Linked DNA regions of Homo sapiens: region 2 is linked to region 1. The links come from fine-mapping of genetic effects on gene expression. Tissue or cell type: whole blood. Region 1 holds a variant in brackets; the other region holds the start of a gene. All regions are shown on one strand. Distances are from middle to middle.

Region 1 (2,756 bases):
AGTGATGAAAAAGAGAATCAGGTGTATTGAGACTGAAATCCCAGCTCTGCCACTCACTAGTGATCATTGGTAAATTGCTTAACTTTTTGAAGGCTGTCCCTCAAATGAAAACATCGGGGGATCATACGAATCTCCTGGGCCGACTGAAAGTAGGTGCTCAACACACATGCGTCACATGCATACCGTATATGTACGGTGTTTGTCAGTGTGCCCGGCACATGGTAGCGCTCCATAGATGGAGCTTGTGCTGCTGCTGCTGCTGCTGTTGGAAGACATCTGTCTTGTCAACCATTCTGGATCTCTAGGACTTCAACCTGGGGACAAGGTGCTCTTCCCTGAAGCGAGCACCATCTTTGTTTCTCTGACACCTGAGGGAAAGCTCAGGGGGGAGCCAGCATTTTTGAGGTCTCCTCTCCATGTCCAGTGGCTGGGCCCCTGTCACCACCTCTAATTGGGATGGGGTGTGGTCCCTGGAGCTCCCAGGTATGCATCGACCTGTGCCCTGTGCACATGTGGCACTCCAAACTTTAAATTACTTGTGGGATTAGCAGGGCCCTGGAGTAACTAATGTGTCAGGGGCCCCATAGAGTACACGGTGCGGCTCGAGGATTCCTTCGGCTGCTGGGGAAAACCTACCTTCGGGATTTCTGGGCCTCAGGCCAGGAAGCCAGATCCTCTTCATGAAGAGTCTGGAGCTGGGACAGCAGCATTTAGCCAGCACAGCTGAAAGGAATGAAGTGAGAGAAACACCACCAAAGGCTAAAGTGCCCACACGATTTAAGAGGAAAAAGAAGAAAGAGGGTCTCCCAGGTAAGGCAGGGGCATGTCGGGGGTCTTTCTCTGGCACAGTGTCTAGCCAGGGATCCAGGGAGGAACTGAGAATTGCGTGTGGAATCAGGAGACTCAGAAGCGGCCATCGCGCAAGAAGCAGATGGGGAGAGCTGGGCTGGGGCGGGGGCAGGGATGGGGCGGGGCAGGGATGGGGACATGCCTCTTGCAGGACGTTTGCCTCAGATGCGCTTTCCTCCTCGCCCCGCCTCTGCTTCCAGAAACCTCCCAGCTGCCACTGGTCCTAAGCAGCAGCTGCTGCTGGGGCAGAGAGGAGCTGCTGGGCTCCCAGTGCCCGCCGGGGACCCCATGAACCAAGTCCCCTCCCTGTCCTTGCTGCTCTGTCCCTACGCAAGCCCCGAGGGGGCCTGGCAGGGCTTCCATCCCACTCCACAGGCGAGGAAGGGAGGCTCAGAGGAAAAGCGGACTCCCTCAGGGTCAGGGGGCGAGAGGCAGGTGGGCCTGTACCCAGCCCTGTCTCTAAGCCCACTCTGCGGCTAGCGCTTTCCGTTTCTCTCACCCGCCTCTGAGAAATGCTGAGATTTTTTCTGAATACAAAATAACTCGTATCCATGGTATTCAGAGAAAATTTGGGAAACACTGAAGAGGTACCGAGAGGAATGCTCTGCCCCTATGGATTTTGCTATCTTTTCTTTCCAGTCGCTTTTTTTTTTTTTTTTTTTTTTTTTTGAGATGGAGTCTCTGTCATCCAAGCTGGAGTGCGATGGCGTGATCTCGGCTCACTGCAACCTCCGCCTCCCGGGTTCAAATGATTCTCCCACCTCAGCCCCCGAAGTAGCTGGGATTACAGGCACATGCCA[C/T]TATGCCCTGCTAACGTTTTTTGTATTTTTAGTAGAGTCGGGGTTTCACCATGTTAACCAGGCTGGTCTTGAAATCCAGACATCAAGCGATCTGCCTGTCTCGGCCTCCCAAAGTGCTGGGATTATAGGCGTGAGCCACTGCGCCCGGCCTCCAGTCACTTTCTATCCACATGATTGCTTACCTAATTGAGATCATAATAGTGTGTGCAAGTTTGACCTTGCCCTTTTAATTTATCATTATGCTATAGTAATATTAGCATGGAGAAAATTACCAATAGGACTATGAGGTCTGTCTAATATTCCATTATGTGAAAAGCATGATTTACTTAGGCACTTATTGGTGGAGAGCTGTATTGTTTTCTATTTTCATTCACAAATACTGCTGTGATAAATACCTTTATTGAGAGATCTTGGCCTCCATGCTCACTGATTCTTTAACACATTTCCTGAAGGGAGAACAGCTGAGGTGAGGGGCAGGCAGGTTTTTTGAATTTTTCCTTTTCCTAGGCAAATTTCCCTCCAGAAAGGCTGCATGAGAGTGTATGGCGCTCTTTTTACAGCACCACGTTGCCTCCTACTTCTCATCTGCCTGCTGGCTCCAGAACAGGTAGAGACAAGACCATGAGCCAAGCCAGGTCCCTGGGACAAACCAAGGCTCCATGCCTGCAGGAAGCGGCCACTGAGCCCAAAGCTTCCCCTCTTCCCCTTGCTCTCCCTAGCTGCCTCCCACCTCCCCGCTTCTCTCCCTCCTCTTATGGGGCTGCAGGTGCCAGACCTCTTTGTTTGCTTTCATTCTGAATCCCTTCCAAAACCTGACATAGCTCTACTAACTGTTGAATGTTTCTTGATGGACAACCAGGAATTCAGATCTCCCCTTCACACAGACACACACACACACACACACACACACACACCCCTCACATTCATCAGTGTGGGCAGCCACCTTCATCAAGGACCGCTCCCTGCTTGCAGAGGTCAGCACTGGAGGGTCCACGACAACCCTCAGAGCTGGGATGCCCTGGGAAGCAATTATTCAGCCTTCTCATGGAGCACATGGGGAAACTGAGGCCTAGGGGGGAGAAGAGACTTACTCCAGCTTGATGGAAT
Region 2 (2,628 bases), 75 kb before region 1:
GAAACCTAGCTATAGTTAATACCCCTGTTGGAACTGACTTTGATTTTTTTTTGAGACAGGGTCTCACTTCCGAGGGCAGTGGCATATCACTGCAGCCTCAACTTCCCGGGGCTCGAGCAATCCTCGTATCTCAGCCTCGCGGGTAGCTGGAACAACAGGCATACACCACCATGCCCGGCTAATTTTTGTATTTTTAGTAGAAACGGGGTTTCACTATGTTAAGCAGGATGGCCTCGAACTCCTGGGCTCAAGGGATCCGCCCGCCTCCACCTCCCAAAGTGCTGGGATTACAGGGGAGAGCCTACCGCACCCGGCTGACTTTGCTTTTTTTTTTTTTTTTTTTAAGGTGTCTCTGCCTGTCTCCCTGTAAGCAATGCACTTCACCACTTTTGCATGCACACGTCCTAGCCATCTTTCAATGTCTAGTACAGCTAGGGGGAATCACTCCACTTTCCACTCATCCTAGGTCGATGTCCTCTCTCCCTCTGTGCACTCATACATGGCCCTTCATTTCCTCTGGACATTTCTGCCTTGAATTCGAGTTACTTCAATCTCCTGCTGTACCCCATCTCCTACCGAGAGAGCTTTTGGACGGAAGGAGTCGGCGTGCACTCAAAAGGCCAGCAAGCGGGAAGCAATCAATAAGCACTTAACAGTTTCCTATCCATCCTTGGTTTAGTTCTTGTAGAGCAAGAATTTCTCTCCTCAAGCCTGCCAGCCCCCGGGGGACAGGGTTTACTGATTTTTAATGTCTCCTGCCCGAGTCCAGGACCCACCACGCGGGCTGTGGGGACCGTCAGTGCTCACCGCCACCAAGGTCGTTATGAACCAAGTGCGGGTCAAGTAACAAGTAACAATAACTAACTAGGGCCGCGGTAGGGCGGCTGCGTATCCGAAATCCCATCTAAACCTCGCGACGATCCTGGGCGGGGGCATCGCACCCTTTTCTGACAAGCAGCAGAGGCAAGCGAAGGGGTCAGTGCCGAAGAGGGGGCCCGTGTCGGTGGGTGACAGACCAAGGCCTCAAACCCGAGTCACCGCCCAGAAGATCTTGGGGCGGAGAGAGTTCCTCACTCGCCCCGCCTCGGCACCAGCCTCTGGAGCGCTGAGACCTGGGGTCCCGGGGTCGCCGGACGTGGGCAGGGTCTGGGGGTCGCGCGCACCCCCGCCCCCTGCCCCGCGCCATCTTGGAGCGCTGTGGCGGCCGCTCCCGACAGCTTCGAACCGTTGCTCTGGAGGTTACTCACCCGCACTGCCCGGAGCCAGGCCCCCTGCCACCTCCGCGACCCCCGCCACGGCCAGCAGAAGGAGCAGCGCACCTCGCAGAGAGGCCCGGACGGTCGCCATGTCCGGGCCGGGCGGCTCCAGAGCCGCGGGATGCTCGGACCCAGCTTGGCCGCAGCCGCTGCCGCCGCTACCGCCGCCGCTCGCGCGAGGCCCCGCCCCCAGCGCCCGGCCCTTTGGTGACTGGCTGCGGCCCGCTCAAGCCCCGCCCCCTGCCTCACAGTGTTTCCAAAACCTCCCGGGGGCGGGAACGTGCCCCGTACCAGGGCTCTTTGTTATGGCCCAACTGTGTGTCGGCTTCTGCCAGGAGTCCACCAGCCCACGTTCTCCCAGAGTGAAGTCAGAGGATGTCAGAGCTGGGAGAGTCATTAGAAAACCTCTGCCACCTCCTGAGGTTTCGGGCCACTGAGGTGAGAGAGGAGACTGACCTTACTCAAGATCACACTGCAAGTTCACCTGAGAACAAGGGCTTAGTCCAAGGCCGAACCAAAGGGGCTTCTCTCCTTCATGTACCCTCAGTAATACTCGCAATATTCTTTCTGCCGAGACGCTGCCTCGCACCCAAAGAAAGCATGTCACCCGGGATCCTTCGGCCTCCCGCAGACACGGCCCCCTGACAAGGGTTCATCACTAGAGCTCTTTGGCACTATAGCCTCAATGTGTCTTTGTTGTACTTTAAAAATTATTTATTTATTTATTTAGGCAAGAGTCGCTCTGTCGCCCAAGCTGGGGTGCAGTGGCGCGATCTCGGCTCACTGCAACCTCCGCCTCCCGGGCTCAAGCGATCCTCCCACCTCAGCCTCCTGAATAGCTGGGACCACGGGCGCAGGTGACCACGCCTGGCTAATTTTTATATTTTTTTTGCAGAGAAGGGGTTTCACCATATTTCTCAAGCTGGTCTCGAACTCCTCGCCTCAAGCAATCCCCCAGCCTCCTCCTCCCAAAGTACGGGGATTGCAGGCGTGAGCCACTGTGCCTGGCCTTGATGTTACTATTAAGCACCTATTCCTGATAGGAAAAGAGGATAGGAGAACGCTTGTATACCTAGATGTGGAAAGCCTTGAATATCCGGCTGAGAAGTATAGACTTTGTCCAAGAGACAAGTTGGAAGTGGGTCCCACCCCACCCATCAGCCCAGCAGCTACGTGGAGAATGTTTAAGCCACTGGCTAGCAAAGCTAATTCATTGTCTCTTTTTTTCTCTGTGTGTTCCTGAATTAAACCCTTTTTCCTCCTTTTTTGAAAAAGCATGACCACCGTTTTAAATTCTCATGAAGACACCTGGGGCTAAATTACTTAAAACATTTTTAAAATTCCTTAATATTATTAAATATCCAGTCATTAT

The links. PIP is the estimated chance that this variant, and not a neighbour inherited with it, causes the effect.
Region 2: it holds the start of RECK, and the variant in region 1 is fine-mapped to the expression of RECK in whole blood (INTERVAL, PIP above 0.99).

What each region holds. Positions count from the first base shown.
Region 1 is chr9:35,960,615-35,963,370 of GRCh38, reverse strand. No RefSeq gene overlaps it. Among named protein-coding and RNA genes, the nearest start is that of OR2S2, 3.8 kb to the right of the region's middle. The variant C/T (reference allele first, on the strand shown) is at 1,650.
Region 2 is chr9:36,035,718-36,038,345 of GRCh38, reverse strand. RECK (reversion inducing cysteine rich protein with kazal motifs) reads right to left here and starts at 1,433. Exons shown (of 21, transcript NM_021111.3): 1 at 1,248-1,433. The coding sequence starts at 1,347. RefSeq lists silencers at 1,154-1,303, 1,314-1,513.